2 separate regions of the Homo sapiens genome follow, and region 1 is linked to region 2. Evidence: fine-mapped expression QTL. A gene starts in region 2. The other region holds a variant in brackets. All regions are shown on one strand. Distances are from middle to middle. Region 1 overlaps SCUBE1 (signal peptide, CUB domain and EGF like domain containing 1). Region 2 holds the start of SCUBE1-AS2 (SCUBE1 antisense RNA 2).

Evidence for each region.
Region 1: its variant is fine-mapped to the expression of SCUBE1-AS2 in aorta (GTEx, PIP above 0.99).

Annotation. Positions count from the first base shown.
Region 1 is chr22:43,294,343-43,302,662 of GRCh38, reverse strand. The region is part of intron 3 of SCUBE1 (signal peptide, CUB domain and EGF like domain containing 1); the gene reads left to right. Among named protein-coding and RNA genes, the nearest start is that of SCUBE1-AS1, 23 kb to the right of the region's middle. RefSeq lists enhancers at 1,225-1,724, 1,725-2,226. The variant A/G (reference allele first, on the strand shown) is at 4,936.
Region 2 is chr22:43,208,213-43,216,532 of GRCh38, reverse strand. It overlaps SCUBE1-AS2 (SCUBE1 antisense RNA 2), which reads right to left and starts at 3,859. Exons shown (of 2, transcript NR_134632.1): 1 at 3,836-3,859; 2 at 2,872-3,378. SCUBE1 (signal peptide, CUB domain and EGF like domain containing 1) reads left to right here. Exons shown (of 22, transcript NM_173050.5): 16 at 2,282-2,443; 17 at 3,941-4,108; 18 at 5,450-5,611; 19 at 6,293-6,490; 20 at 8,309-8,320.

The sequences.
Region 1 (8,320 bases), 86 kb before region 2:
AAGCACCCCGTTCCCAGCCTGGCTCTGTCACTCACTTGCTGGGGACTGTGGGCAGGCTGCACACTGCTTGGAGCTCCCATTTACAAAACAGCTACTGCCCTGGGCTGAGGTTAACTGAGATAACTGTAACAAAGAGTGCCTGACTCTGAGCAGGGGCCCCAGCCGCCCCCTGCCCTGCCTGTGATCTAGAAGTTCAAGGAGGAACTGGCCTTGCCATAGGTGGTCTAGCAAAGTGAGTGAAATGTAGTTCGGTAGGGGATCCCACTGTGTCTCCAGACCGCTTCCCTCTCCACTCACTTCCTGAAACTCTGCCCAGCTCAAGCAGCTTCTTTAGTGGGAGACTTTGGTCCTCATGTCAGTAAAGGTGCCGACAAAGCAGGAGGAGACGCTGAGCTGCACCCCTCTTCTGAGGCCCCCCAACATGGATCCCGTCATGCACTGAGCACCAAAGCCACAGGCTGGCAATGACTGTGAGGGTACCTGGTTCCCCATCGCGATCTCCGCACAAGCTCCCCACTCTCGGGCAAGGCTAAGGCGGCAGATGAGCACAGCTCTTCTCTGAGAGCCTTCTCTGGCATCTCCTGATGTCAGCCCCTGACCCACCCACACACCCACGGCCCACTGGTAGCCAGCACATGCTCCTGTCACTCATCCAGAGCTGCTTCCTTGAGCAGGTCCTGGGGCTGCAGGGCCTCATGGCAGCCCCTCTGCAGCCACACTTTGCAGCATACGGCAGCGAAGGCCATGCAGCTCATCCTTGGTGGGACGGCCTTTAGCCAGGGCCTGTGGATGTCCAGGCCAGAAGCGCCGTTCCCCACCCACACTTTTGGAAGTGCTCAGTCCGTTATCCAGTCCGCAGACATACATCATGTGCCCCGTGCACTGTTCAAAACCCTGGGATACTGTGATGCTCAAAACAGACAGGGTCCCTGTTCTCAGGGGCTCTGTGTTGCCTGGGGGTAGACAGAAACAGTCACAAGGAAGATTCCAGGTGGGTGGGGGCGTGCTCTGAAGGAAGCAGGGGAGGGACACGTTGCAGAATGGCCTGTCTGCCACTTTAGCTTAGTGGTCAGAGAGAGCATCTCTGGGAAAGCGGCACGTGAGCTGAGGTCTGAAGGAGAAGGAGGAGGCAGCCGTGCCAAGACAAGCAAAGAACATTCCAGGCAGAGGAGCAAATGCCAAGGCCTGGAGATGGGAACAGGACAGCTGGGGTCAAGGGAGAGCAGGACACAGCAGCCTGGCTGGAGGCGGGTGAGCGAGGAGGAGCCCGGGGGGACGTGGGCAGAGCAGTTCCTGTGGGCTTGGTGGCCGGGAAAGGGAGTTCATGTTTATGACACCTTTGTGGGCTTTCAGGCAGGGGGATGGCATGAGGTCCATGAGGGATGGAGGATGGACAGAGGCAGGATGGAGGCAGGGAGTTCGAGAATCCAGGCCAGAGACGAGGGCGACTGGCCCAGCCGTGGCAGCCCTGGAGGGGAGCGAATGTGTTGTACTCGTGGTGAATTTCACAGGCAGAATTGAAAGGACTGGACCTGCTAAGGGCTTCAATGTGGGGAGAAAGCAGCATCAAAAATAACTACCAGGTGTTTTGCCTGAAGCAACTGTGGGTTGTGTGACCATTTGCTGAGCTGGGGAAGGCTGAGGGCAGACTGAGCTTTGTCTCATTCTATTCTGCTTTTGTGGGAGGGGGACTTGGGAGTTCAGCACGCGGCCCATGAAGTCTGTCACGCCCGCAGGATGTCCACGTGCAGGCACCAGGTCAGCTCTTGATGTCTAAGTTGGAGGGTGGTGGAGCTGGCAGGCCTGGGGGTTTGGGGGCAACCTTGGCAGATAGGTAGCCAAGGGACAGTGCGAAATCTCCCAGGAACAAAATGTAGATGGGGTGGGGGCGAGGGAAGAGCCTGAGAGAAGCCCAGGCCCCACTGACCTGCACTGAACTCCTGAGTACCTAGTGCTGCCTGAGGCTGCTTGAAAGGAGGTGGTGTCCACAGAATAGGAAAAAGTATTTGCCAATCATATATCTGGTAAGGGTCTAGTATCCAGGATGTATAAAGAACTCTTACAACTCAAGACATCCCAGTTTAAAAATAGGCAAAGGACCTGAATAGACATATCTCCAAAGAGATGGAGACGCCACGCCCACCTGGAGTCTTTGTGACTGTTTCTGTCTCCCCACAGACAGCATAGAGCCCGTGAGAACAGGGACCGTGTCTGTCTTGAGCGTCGCTGTATCCCAGGGCCATACAAATGGCCACTAAGCATGTGAAAAGCTGTTCAACATCATTAGTCATTAGAAAAATGAAAATCAAAACCATAATGAGAAACCACGCCACACCCACTAGGATGGCTGTTAAAAAAAAAAAAAAGCCCAGAAAGGAACAAGTGTTGGCGAGGATATGGAGAAATTAGAAACCCCATACTTTGCTGGTTGGAAATGTAAAACGGTGTCGCCCGTGGTAAACAGTCATTTCCTCAAAAAGGGCACACATGGAGTTACCAGATGATGTGACAGTGCCACCCCCAGGTATCCACCCAGGAGAGCTGAAGGCGTATACCCCCACGAAAACTTACACACAGTGTTCAGCAGCACCGTTCATAACAGCCACAAAGCCAGCACAACCCGGATGTCCATCAGCTCACGAAGAGATACATGAAATGTGGTCTGTCCATGCAATAGAATACTGTTCAGCCGTAAAAGGGAATGAAGTGCTGAGTCACGCTACGACATGGATGCAGCTTGAAAACATGCTAAGTGAAGGAAGCCAGACACACAAAGACAAATATCGCATGACTCTCTTTACATGAAATGTCCAGAATGGGCAAACCATAGATGGAAAGTAGACATGTGGTTTCCAGGGGCGAAGGGGTAGGAATTGGGACTAACCGAAAACGGGCACAGGTCCTCTTTCTGGCATGATGGAAATATTCTGGAATTAGTAGTGATGGTCGTGCAACACGGTGAATATACTAAAAACCACTAAGATGTCGGCTTAAAGATTGTGAATTGTGTGCTCCATGAGTTCTATCTCAACCAGAAACGGGATTGGAGAAATAGCAGAGGTCACACGAACATAGCATCAAAAGTCCCACCCACATCCTCCAAGCAGACCATGTGCACAGCTCTGTCCACTTCTGGGCCAATTGTGAGTGCCCCAGTAAGCTGGGATCCCCAGAGAAGGGCGACCTGGGTGGTGAGTGTGCCAGAAGCTTATTCAGGAGGGAACAGTGTCAGGAGCCGAGCGGCTTCACTTGGAGACCAGAAGGCTGAGGCGGGTCTGAGTGCTCCCCTCTGATGTGGTTTGTTGTTGCTTTTGCATTTTGGAAGGGACTTTGCTGTCACTGGAGTACGTTCGTACCCGTGATTCCCTGAGGCCATGAGCAGCGGCTTCGTGCTGCACCTGCTCACACTCGGTGGTGGTCTGTGTGTGCCAGGCGCTGTGCAGAGTACATTACCTCCATCACCTCCTTTGACTCCCAAACACCTCAGGGACTTTTATCCCTGTTTTATAGAGAAGGAAACCAAGGCCCAAAATGGTGAAATGACCTGCTCAAGGTCACAGAGCAAGTGACCAGCAAAGACTCACTGAATCTTTTTTCTTTTTTTTTTTTTTGAGACGGAGTCTCGCTGTGTCGCCCCAGGCCAGAGTGCAGTGGTGCGGTCTGGCTCACTGCAAGCTCCGCCTCCCGGGTTCACACCATGCTCCTGCCTCAGCCTCCCAAGCAGCTGGGACTACAGGCACCCGCCACCATGCCCGGCTAATTTTTTGTATTTTTAGTAGAGACAGGGTTTCACCGTGTTAGCCAGGATGGTCTTGATCTCCTGACCTTGTGATCCGCCCGCCTCAGCCTCCCAAAGTGCTGGGATTACAGGCGTGAGCCACCAAGCCCAGTCGACTCACTGAATCTTGTACTCCATCTGGTATGACTTGTAGAGCAACAGCCAGGTCCCATGGGCAGTGGTCACAGGGCAGCATCACGCAGACCCCTTTGAGGACTGGCCAGCGGTCTGCACTGGGCGGTAGACTCCCGTCCTTCCCTAGAGATGCACAGCAGGGGGCGGCAGGGCAGCGGCTGGGCTGGAAGGCAGGACTCAGGTTGCGGAGAGCAGAGTGAGCAGACCCCAGCGGCCAGCAGGCTTCACCACCTCTGCCTTCCCTGGGCTGGCTTGCTGGGTTTGGACGTGAGCAGTGAGCTTGCTGGTCTGGAAAGCTGACCTTACCATTCATGCGCCTCATCTCCCACCCTGAGCTTGGACTCAGGCCCAGGCCAAGAGGTTGGCTCTGTGTCTTCTGCACACGGCCAACCTGCTGGGGAATCAGGAGCCCCAGGGAAGACCTCAGCTGATGCCCAGACCAGGAAGCAGACAGGTCCTGGGAGACCCCAGGCATACCTCCTGCCGCCTGTGCCAGCAGCTCTTGACAGCTCGGAGAGTGTTCTGGATCTGGCAGAACCCAGGCCCCAAAGCTCTAAGACCCGTGTGTATTTTACCCAAAATCTAATCCATCTGGTTCTCATTTATTTACACTTAACTCATCAAATGCAATTTTGCAAGAGCCGCTAGATAGCCAAGAGGCTTTTCTGCCTAAGCCGCCCTTCTGAAAGGAGCCGGCAGGCGGTGGGGGCCTCAGCCCCCTGGGACCAGGTGGGAGCTCTCCGTGCTGGAGGTGGAGTTCGCTTCCTAAGATGGGCTGGGCACCTCTGCCTCTGTTTCTAGACCTTCCGTGGGAGCTGGGACACCGGAGCCAGTGGAGGGCCTGACACACAGTAGGCTCTTGACAGCCATGAAAACATGGGTGGGTCCAAGCAGAACACGGAGTCTCTGTTTCAAATCGGGAAATATTTGCGGGAAACACAAAGCAGCCAGAGCTGGATCCAGAAGTAATTTTTAGTTGTTATAAATAACTGTGAACCTGGACTCTTGGTCCAAAGTAGAAC[A/G]AACAGCCAGCTATTAATAAAAACAAACATCAGCATCTTGGGCCAAGAAGCACACCTCCCGGGGAAACTGGTCCTGCCTGCAGAGGCCTTTCGGAAGCGGGTCAACCTATGGCCTGCTGATGTCAGCTCTGGAAATTCTTCTTGCTGGAAAACAACCATGTCAATCACAGCACAGGGGTCCCCTCCCACACATCACCCTTCAGTGGCTGGCAGCAGGTGGAGGTGGCCTGCGCCTGTGAGGACCGAGTGGAGATGGGCAAGAGTCACAGCTGAGGGCCGTCCGCCGCCACCCCGGCCTCCAGAGCTGTGCTCATGCTGGGTACTGCACAGTGAGGAGGTGGGACCTGACCCCAGAGACCCTGTGGGACCAAGGTGCCATGTCCTGTTCCAGCCAGACTCATCACAGCAGCCACTGCCCATGGAGAAGGGATTGGGAGGGAGAGGCTGGAGGCTGAGACCCAGGAGAAGTGTGCAGCCTACCCCAAAGAGGAAGCTGAGGTCCAAGCCAGGGCTGTCTCATGGGAGCCAGGGAGATGGACGGGCAAGGTGGCGTGGAAAAAGTCAGCAGCCTTGGTCAGACCCTTGGGAGAGGGGCAGAAGAAAGGGGCTTCGAGAACAACAGGGTCCTCAGGCCTGGTGGCTGGGTGGGACGAGGGCCAGACCCTGACCAGTGAGGCCCCTCTTTTGTGCTCCAAATGCTCAGCCTTTCTTGACTCCTGTCCTTCCCTTCTCCCACCTCTGACCTCCCCCAGCTCTGCGGGCTGAAGGAATGGGAGTTCACAGCTCACGGGGAGCAGCCTTCAAGGACCTTCAGGCTCCCTGTCTTTTGTCCCATACCTCACTGGAGTGGTCTTTTTCCGAGGGGGTCTCCCAGCCCCACCTGCTGAAGGCCCCTGTGGCACGGCCCACCAAGGTTCCACCTTCTCTTCCTCCCAGCTCCCTTGCCTGCCATTTCAGCCTTGGCCCGGAAGAGGGAAGGGCTCCGGCGGTTCGATGGCACAATCACAGATACAGTTGTACATCAAAAGAGGCTGTGGACCAGTGCCTTCCAGCCTCAACCACGCCGGTCCAGACAGCTGTGAAAGGCTCCTCCCAGGACCGGGCATGGAGGGCCCGCTCTCCACTCTACCTCCCCCGTCTCTCTCACCAGTTGAAAGGATTTCCTGAAAGGAGCCTCCTAGAGTCTGCCCCAGAGCCCAGGGGACCTCCTGTCTCTTTGTAGCTAAGTCCCTGTGCTGTGCTGAGGAGCTCCGTGCCTTCTGGGAACATTTAGCTGTGGTCATAAATAAAGATGAAGGACCATGAGCTGCCAGCAGGATTCAGAGGCGGGACACTCCCCCTACCCCTCCTAGAGCCGCCCAGGGATTCTGGACCCCGGATTGGAAACAGGCCCACTCAGGGGCCTCACTACACGCAGGCTCAGCCCTGGCCCAAGGCCTCAGTGGTTTGGGACACTCTGCGTGTCAGGCTGCACAAATGTTTTCTGCAGGGACTGTCCCCCTGCTAGTTGGACTGATGTGGGGACCCGAACAGAGCTGGGGTTTTTGAGCGCTGTGTGGGGTCGCCAGGGTAGGGTGCAGGCCACAGAGCAGCCTCGCTCACTCTACATGCCCACGGCCTGGCTCTGCTGTTCCTCTTAGCCCAGCATCCAGGACCCTGTCAGCCACCTTTCCCTGGTTGCTTCCAGAACTCTCCTCCTGTTAGAGAGGCTGCAGGCCCTTCCCTGTCTGGGCCCTGCCCTGCCCCTTCCATGAGCCTTTGCTTTCAGAACACCTCCGCCTCCTCCAGGATCCCCAGGCTCAGGTCACACCTCTCTGCTGTCCTCAAAGCAGCTTGTACTTCGCCTCTTCCAGGAAGCCTCCCATCTCTGTGCTCTGGCCCAGTGCCCTGGAGCTTGGTGTCCCTGGCAGCTCAGGGGTAGTGTGGCACAGAGTAGGTGCTTGGTGTTCACGGAGTGAGTGAATGAACAGAGGCGTTTCAGGTGGATTCAGAAGGCAAGAAAAACTTCGGTCTGGACAAGGAGGGGAGGCAGTTCCAGGAGGAGGGTGGCATGCACACTCGGGCAGAGGTGAATGGGTGGGCTGTGTTCAGAGAGCAGCCGCAGCGGATTCCTAGAGCATGGCTGAAGAAGTGGGCAGGCTATGAGAGCCCACTCACAGCTGAAGCCCCCCTCGTGCCCAGTGGGAATAAGGACAGCACTCTGCCCCCTGGGACTGGTCCCTTGGCGGTAGTGAGCTCCCTGGCACTGGTGTGTGCAAGCACAAACTGTGCCATCCCATTTACCCTCCTGTCACTTGAGTAATCACTCTTGGCCTGACCCGCTGCTAGGAGCAAGGATATAAAGGAGACTCAGATCTGTCCTCACCCCAGGGCGGGGACAGGATAGGCAAGCCCTCTGGTCCAGGGCAGAGGAAGGAAGTAGTGAAGGAAGGCAGGCCTGGCCTGGAAGCCGGGGTGGAGTGAATTATGCTGGGCACCAGAAAGACTACACGGAGGAGGAGGCTGAGCACTGGGCTTTGGAGAGGTGGGCATGGAGGGGCCAGGGAGGTTTGTAAGCATCAGCACCTGGGAACCTTCGTCACTACCGCCATCGGACTTGAAGGGTCGTCATTCACAGCTGAATCCTGCGGGAGGAGAGGGAGGGCTTTGGATTCATGGGGCTTCCAGTTCTCTTTCTGCCTCTTTTAGAGCTTTGAGGAAATCTCTCTCCATCTCCAGGCCCCAGTTTTCTCACCTGAGAATCAGGGATAATAAGAATAATGCCCCCGGTGTGGAGCTGTTGTGTGGATTTATTAAGATAATGCCTGAGCTGGGGCCTCGCTGGCAGCAATTGCCGTTATTTATGGTAGTGAGGCTGGCAACCCCGCCCAGCCTCAACGCTCACCTCTGTGTGAGGGCTTGGGGGTGGGCTGGGATTCTCACACGGGGCCAGCCACACAGGACCCATCCATGCACTGACAGTCAGTTCCACGGGGCAGAGAAGGAGGAGGGCTGCACACACCACAGGCATTCCAGGAGGACTTCCTGGAGGACGCAGTCTGCAATCCCTCAAGCTCTGGGAGCACTTCCCAGGGATAAGGCCTGGGCATCGCCCACAGGCTACAGGGCAAGACAGGGGCAGAACTCAGGGAGCCTGACTCCCAGGTGTGGGTTCCCCTTTTCCATGAGGACACCTCTCATAATAGAGTGTGCCAAATGCTGGGGGACCATGGGGCGGTGTGTGCTGGGCTCACAGCACCTCTTGGAGAGGGCCAAAGTACTGTTTCTCATAGTGCCCTGCCAGGCCTGGCCAGGGCCTCCAAGTGAGCCCAGTCTGTCCTGGGCTCATGGGCGGCATCTCACAGACCCAGCTGCTGCAGTTGGATGCTCTTCAGACCTCAGTGTG
Region 2 (8,320 bases):
TACAGGTGCGCGCCACCGTGTCCGGCTAATTTTTGTATTTTTAGTAGAGACAGGGTTTCACTATGTTGGCCAGGCTGGTCTCAAACTCCTGACCTCATGATCTGCCCACCTCGGCCTCCCAAAGTGCTGGGATTATGGGTGTGAGCCACTGCGCCCAGCCTCTTCTACTTTCAATAACTTATTTTGGGCCGGGCATGGTAGCTCACGCCTGTAATCCCAGCACTTTGGGAGGCCGAGACAGGTGGATCACCTGAGGTCAGGAGTTTGAGACCAGCCTGGCCAACATGGTGAAACCCCGTCTCTACTAAAAATACAAAAATTAGCTGGGTGTGGTGGCGAGCGCCTGCAATCCTAGCTACTGGGGAGGCTGAGACAGGAGAGTCACTTGAACCTGGGAGGCAGAGGTTGCAGTGAGCTGAGATCACACCACTGCACTCCAGCCTGGGTGACAGAGCGAGACTCCATCCCAAAATAAAAATAAATAACTTATTTTGAAATTATTTCAAAGTTTCAGAAACATTGTCAAGCAGAACAAAAAACTTCCATATTTTCTTCATCCAAATTCCCCAATTGTGCACATTTGACCACATCTGCCCCGTCTCCCACACGTGTGCATGTGTGTGAGTGTGCATGCATGTGTGAGTGTGTAGTCTTCACCATCCAACCCACACACCCACCCCATTCAGCTCCAGCAATCCTTCCAACAATGTCCCTTTTGTTTTTCTGGTCCCAGCTCCCATCCAGAAAGACATGTCACCCTCCACTGTGTCTTCAGGCTCCTTCAGTCTGGAGCCGCTTCTCCCCTTTCCCTGCCTCTCCTGCCCTTGTCCCAAACTCACCTCCTCTAGGCTAACGCTCAGAGCTCCCTCTGGTTTTTCCTGGGGACCTGACTCAGGGCCCAGGGTCCAGCAGGAACCTCAGCTTCGAGGCCTAATCCTGGGTGCCCCATCAGCAGGCACAGGATACCCCCAGCCCGCCACTGGCTTCACTTTCACTCGCCATTTTCTCTCTGTGATTGATGAGTGTTTTCTGAGTTTGGACCAATATTCTCCTCCTCATCAAACTTCTGCACAGCTCCCGCCATGTCAGCCACCTCTACCATTTGTTCCATGTTCCACGCTCACTAGTCACATTCTCCTGTAGGAAAGTGGGTGGCCATGGCCGTTTACCTCTGGGTCTGTATCCCTATAGACTCAGATTCCCCTTACTCATTGCGTGGTGATCCATTCCTGATGTTATTTAGTTCGGCGCTCACTGTGTCCCCAGGGTAGCCAGGGATGCCCCACCAAGCTGGCTCTTGGGTCTGTCTGACCTGCCACACACATGCTGCGAGCCTCCCCTTCAGATCCAACTGACACTCTCCATCCCCTGGCATCAGCCAAATCCCCAAGGACCCCTGGTTCCTTTGAGAGGAGGATGATGGGTAGAAACCAAAATCTGGGATATTCATTGCTCCTGGAGTACCACTGCCTCTAGGCCCTCTCATCGGACAGAACTGGAAAGCATAGATGTGTATACACGTGCACACACAGGCATGGGAATCTATGGGTGGGGGGGTTCTAAAACCATGAATTCATGCCAGTGCCTCCCGTTCCACACCTCAGGGTCTTTTCTAACCTTCACTCCCCATTTCCGCATTTGTAAGCATCTTCTCCAGCACTGAGAAACTCGGCTCCCTTTCTCCTGAATTTACTGATTTACTCAGTTTCCTTACTTACTCATCAGTCGACGTATTTGTTCAGTGTAGCCAACCAGACTGCGCTGTCTTCAGCCCATCATCTCCTCGCTACGCCCCTCCCACCTCGCCCGCCAGGCCCTCCTGCCCTTGCCTATTTGAGCCCCAGTCCCTCCCCACTGCCCCTAACTCCTCCACTCAGGAAGGACAGGGGAGCTTCGGGGTGAAATGACTGTAGCATATCCAAGTGGCGACATCCAGGAGGCAGTTTGCTAAAGCTGGAGGGCAGGGTGTGGAGCAGACAGAGGACAGACGTATGGGGGAGGTGGGGACCACAGGCTTCTATAAGCGGGTGGAGATGGAGGGGTCCACAGAGGACTCTGAGGTGCAGCAGCCAGAGGGGCCAGGCTTCATGGCCCTCACAGATGGCTGCCTCCTGGGTCTTGCCCCAGGCTCTTCTGGGATAGGTCAGGGGCCCCTCTGTGTCCTTGGGGCCCCAGGGGACAAGGACTGTGTCTATCAGGAGAGCCTGGGCTTGAGCACACAGGAGACACCCCTGGCCTCCCCACCTCTGCCTCCAGCAGCCTCTCCGCTTTGCCTCTGCAGTTGCCTGTGGGCCTGGCACCCACTTCGGTGGTGAGCTCGGCCAGTGTGTGTCATGTATGCCAGGAACATACCAGGACATGGAAGGCCAGCTCAGTTGCACACCGTGCCCCAGCAGCGACGGGCTTGGTCTGCCTGGTGCCCGCAACGTGTCGGAATGTGGAGGCAAGTGCGGGCCTAGAAGGAGAGGTGGGGGTGGGGGGTGGGCGGGGGCTCCTCCTGTCTCTGATGAGGCCCTCCTGTCGAAGGCCCAGGTGCCTGGTGTGGCCAGAGAGTGTGGTATTTTCTAAAGTTCCTTGTCGTTTCCAAAACCCTTCACGATGTCTGTGCAGTCATCACTTACAAAGTGCGTGACAGATCCCAAAGCGTCAGCAGTCCCGGCCTGCACTACAGTGCTGAGCGCTGCACTGCACTCGGTGTGCTCTCAGAATTGCATTGTGCCCTTTGGAAAGGACTTCACAGTGTGCAACTTACGGTTTCTAAGGGAGGTACATAAGTGCCTTATGGTGGACTAGACAGCTTACATTTTACGGAACATTCCATTACAACTGGAACACTTTGCAGAGAGTATCTTATACTTGAGCAAGAACTTTGCTCCACACAAAGAACTTTATTATGTGCCCCACAGACGGTTTAGAAAGCCCTTTTTCAATTTACCAAATGCAGTTAGGTTTGCAAAGAGCTTTTGCATTTACCTCCCTCTCCCCACTTAACTCCATCTGTGAAGCTAGCTCAGTCTCCCCATGAGCCTTTCTTCCCAGGCCACTGTGAGTTTCACCCAAGAGAATCCGCGGGGAAGGTTCTCAGCACCCTGAGAAGCACAGTGCCTGTGAGGGTGGGGGAGTGGGGTCCCAGGATACTGGAGACCTCCAGCTTTCTCCCGGTGATGGAAGGGCTCAGAGCCCAGCCCTGAGTCCGTCCAGGCTGCCGGCTGCTCTCTGGCCCACGCCCACTCCAGGAGTGTGGTCTCCACCCCTGGGGGAGTGGCCACTGGTAGGAGATTCCGTGTTTGGGTAGAAGCTGAGAATCCCAGGGTCTGGGCTGAGAGGGTGCTAAACCCGCCTCTCACTCAATGCCAGAATACTCTCTGCATCCTGAGTCTGCTGGAACGCAAGAACATTCTTTACTCGGAGCTGAAATTGGCTTTCCTGTGGTCCCCTCCCTTTGTCCCAGGGGTGCCCTTGAGTACCTCAGAAACCCTCCCCAGACCCGCCTCCCTCTGCTCTGGCCTGGCCCTGCTGGTAGACCAGGCAGCGTCACCCTGAAGCTGAGCAGGTGCTCCTTCTGCGGAGACCCCGGTGCAGCCTACCCCCCGGGGACAGCCCCTCTGAGACACGTGACCTGCCCCTCCACCTGTGGGTCCCCTTCCCAGCTCAGCAGCAAGGCCTCTTGCTCTTCAACCCCCAGGCCTTCTTGCTGGTGGGAGAAGGAGAGCCAGGCTTGACCAAGGCCGCACATGAACCGCTGGCATCATCCGGACCAGGGCCCAGCTTCCTGCACCCCGGCTGCTGCGTTTTCCCCACCCCGTCCCCACCCCAGGCCTCGGGTGCCCAGTACCTTTTCCAGGGCCGGGCAAGGGCCAAGAGCGGGGCCTGAGACCACCCACAGCCTCGGCCCTGCGGTGCCCTCCTGCCCGCCTGAGCCATGACCTCTGACTTTCAGGCCAGTGTTCTCCAGGCTTCTTCTCGGCCGATGGCTTCAAGCCCTGCCAGGCCTGCCCCGTGGGCACGTACCAGCCTGAGCCCGGGCGCACCGGCTGCTTCCCCTGTGGAGGGGGTTTGCTCACCAAACACGAAGGCACCACCTCCTTCCAGGACTGCGAGGCTAAAGGTGAGCATGCCCTCCCCACCACGCCCGCCCACCCCGAGAGGCAGGGCTGCACTGCTCCGAGAGGCTTCCCCGAACCCCTCTCATCTCCTCCATGTGGCGAACCTCCCAGCTCAGAGGAGGAGCCTGGAGCTGTCAGGCGTGGGCGTGGGTGACCCACTGTGCCCCGCATTAGGACAGGGACACCTTATAGCTGAGAGCTTTCTGAGCTCCAGGGGGAACAGCAGCTCCTCGGAGCACTGGGGAGGGCTCTGGGGACAGGAGGCCTTGAGCAGCATCTAGAAGGGAGGTTGGGAGGGTGAGGAGGGGGCAGGAGTGTGGGGGCAGGAGTGTGGGGGCAGGAGCGGGATCAGGGCATCACCTCAACTGCTGTCTGTTCAGGGCATCTGGTCCCACCCAGGTCTACATCCCGTCTTCCCTCACTCACCAACTCCCCCAAATCCTCCCCATTCTCAGCTGCTGACCCTGCTTCCCCACCGTGCTCCCTCTCAGTGTCTGTCTGTCTGTCCAGGTGGCCTGGCTCTCAGCCCCCTGGAGCCAGCCACATCACCAGATACTCCCCTGCACATACAAACTGTTCTGAATTTGCCCATTTAAAAAAAGAAGCCAGGTGCGGTGGCACACACCTATAATCCCAGCACTTTGGGAGGCCAAAGGGGGTGGATCACCTGAGGTCAGAAGTTTGAGGCCAGCCCGGCTAGCATGGCAAAACCCTGTCTCTACTTAAAAAAAATACAAAAATAATTAGCCGGGTGTGGTGATGTGCACCTGTAATCCCAGCTACTCGGGAGACTGGGAGGGGAGGATCGCTTGAACCCAGGAGGTGGAGGTTGCAGTGAGCCGAGATGGCACCATTGCACTCCAGCCTGGGTGACGGAGCGAGCTCCATCTCAAAAAAAAAAAAAAAGAATTGCCCATCTCTAGCCCCCCGCCCCGGCACCCCTCAGACTCCGGCCGCCTGTCTCTCCTGCCCCAGCAACCTTGTAGAAAGAGGGTTTGGCCTAGCTGGCTCCACTTCCCCTCCTCCCTGTCTCCCCCGCACGCCTCCGGCCACATCATCGCCCCCGCTCTCCCTGAAAATGGCTCCCATCAAGGTGGCCTGTGTGGTCCCTGTTTTGCTGGAGCCAACATCACATCAATCTGCCATGTGACCCCCACGCCAAGGGCTCTTCCTGGCCATGGCGGAGTGAGGGTGGTGGGAGGTCATGGGGCGGTGGGGAGGAGCCTTGAACTCTGTGCCAAAACAGACCTCGAGGGCATGAGAGGTCCTGGGGACAGCACCCCAGTGCTGCCCTTTCCCTGCACCCCTCCACACCCACCACACTGCCTTGTGTCCCCCGGCAGTGCACTGCTCCCCCGGCCACCACTACAACACCACCACCCACCGCTGCATCCGCTGCCCCGTCGGCACCTACCAGCCCGAGTTTGGCCAGAACCACTGCATCACCTGTCCGGGCAACACCAGCACAGACTTCGATGGCTCCACCAACGTCACACACTGCAAAAGTGGGTGCTGCTGCTCTGCCGTGGGAAGCTGGGAACACGGGAGGGGCTGGGCAGGTTGTGGGGGCGGGAGGAGACCTGATCTCACACGAGCTCCACGAGGACACTGGACTCCTCCCGCTCCGTCCCGTCTGCTCTCGGGTGCATTGCATCCATCTGGAGGCCTGTGGCACCAAAGGGGCAGCCCTGGCTTGGCCCACTCTACGGAGCCCACAGTGGTGGCCATCGTTCATCAGTTCCCACTGCTCACCCAACACAGCCCAAGCCTCTGCCCTGGGCCAGGCCCTGCTCTAGTTTCTGGGTCTGCTGGGGGGGCTGACAGCCTACAGGGGCACTGACAGGGCCTCTAGAGAGAGCAGGGCTCCAGGCCCTCTCAGTGCCCCTGACAAGGCCCAGCCACAGAGAAATAGGGTGGGCCTGCAGGCATGGCAGCCCAGTAAGAAGAAGCCCCCAGGCTGGGCCTCAGGGAACCACAGGCCTGAACAGGGGACCTGCCCTCCTGCTCTGGGGGCAGCCCAGGCAGGGTCCCCAAGGAGGATGGGCTCAGGGTCCGAGGGCTAGTGTGGGGGGGGACAAGAGCACCTTCCAGCCCTGCCCTAGGCCTCCCAGGTGGTTAGAGGCCTGGCCGGCCAGGGCCCCTGCCCAGCAGAGCCTGATGAGGCCCTCGGGCCACTGTGCCCACAGACCAGCACTGCGGCGGCGAGCTTGGTGACTACACCGGCTACATCGAGTCCCCCAACTACCCTGGCGACTACCCAGCCAACGCTGAATGCGTCTGGCACATCGCGCCTCCCCCAAAGCGCAGGATCCTCATCGTGGTCCCTGAGATCTTCCTGCCCATCGAGGATGAGTGCGGCGATGTTCTGGTCATGAGGAAGAGTGGTATGTTGGGGGCCGAGGGGACCAGAGGCAGCCTCAGCTGCGTGTGCACCCCCGTCTCGCTGCGGTTCTGCCAGGCGGGATCGCTGCCTTCACAGGGCAGAGAGGAGGGCCCTGGGGCTCAGAGGACCAGCCCCTCAGAGTCCACCTGGGAGGCAGGGTTGAAACCCACTTGGGTCTAAGAGCTGGCTTTACAGAGTTCTGTGGAAAGATCTGGAGAGCTTAGGGTATTCCGAGAGTGGATGCTGGGACATGGTCAGGCCTGGTCTCAACTCCGGCCACGAGCCGGGCCCTCATCCCAGTGGCGGGACCAGCCGCAGGGCCCCTTGCCACCACTTTCTGCCGCACCGCTCAGGGCGAGACCTCAGGCTCCAGCTCCATGGGTCTCCTCCCGCCCGCTGAGGTTTGGGGGACCACACGGCCGTCCCATGCACCACACAAGATAACAGCTCAGAGAGCCCTCCCCACCCCTCTGTGAGCCCTGGACTCCTGGCTCATCCGCCCCCGTCAGGGCTCCTCTTGAGACTTTAGGGAGTGAAGGATGGAATGGCATGAGAGAGGACTGGACTCAGCAGTGGGTGTGACCGCTGTGTGCCCAGCTGGCCACAGCAGCAGGAATGCCTGGGAGGCCCCTGAGCCACCCGAGCACCAGCCAAATACCTGCAGCGCACCTGTCCAGGGCACCTCGCTGCTGTCGGGCTGTGGGTGCCCATGTGAGCGAGCTCCATGTCTGAGTGTTAGGGAAGGAAGAGCAGGAACCCAGACACCCACAGACGCTGGCCAGAGAACATCTCTGGGTACCCAGTGACCACAGAGACCGGCCAGATGAGGGGGTGGGGAGGGGCCTGAGGTCTGCGCCAGGGCTGCTCCTCCAGAGTTGCGTTATCCTGGGCAGGAGTTGCTCAGCATAGCTAATGAGTAGACGGATGTCAGCAAGGCTGACGCAGCTGAGCAGCCAAAAGCCGCAGTGTGCGGATGGGCAAGGGACCGGCCTGGGACCACATTCCCCACCCGTTCCCCTCACCCGTTCCCCTGCCCCCAGCATCCCCTCCTTCTGTCCCCCACCACAAGCCTGAGCTGAAGTGAAGCCCAGCCTGTCCCCCATGAAGGGCTCCTCGGGAAGGCCCCCAGGGAGCCGTGAGGCCTTGCCAAGGAGCCCTTAAGCGGGGAGAGGCTGGGCAGGGCTGGGGTGCTCCCACTGTCACCGTGTCTGAGAAAAGGATGGTTTGCAGAGTTTGGGAAGATTCACCTGCCGGTCACATGCTGTACCCACGCTGCCGCACTCGGCTCCTGATTTCCTCCTCGGGAGATCAGGGCTCAGTGGGCCTTGCTGGTGTATTTGCTCTCGGGGAGAAGGGACTTCCCAAGTCTGTGCCTCTGGTCCCAGCAGTCAGTGCCAGTTCATCTCCCACGTCCTCCCCCAGCTTCCACTCCCACCCTGGCCTTGCACCAAGTGCAGGCCTGAGCCCTGTCACCGAGGAGCAGTTAGCTGGAGGGAGATGGAGACCCACTGACAGAGGGGCCTGTGATAAGGGGTTCACCAGAGCAGAGCAAGATCTTGGGAGGGGATGGGGGGAGAGTCAGGGAGGCTTCCTGGAAGAGGGGACAGAGATGGGTCTCAGAAGGACAAGTAAGAACCCGGGTTGAGGGTAGGGAAGGGCCTCAGAGGCAGAGGGAGCAAGCACAAAGACTAAGCCGTTGTGTTTGGGGGACCAGGCGTTCGGTGCAGGTGCTGGGTGGTGGACTGGATGGGAGGCGAGTGGCCTAGGGCAGGAGGAGCTGCCTACCTGTGGCAGCTCAGCAATGATGCTTCACCCGCAGCCTCTCCCACGT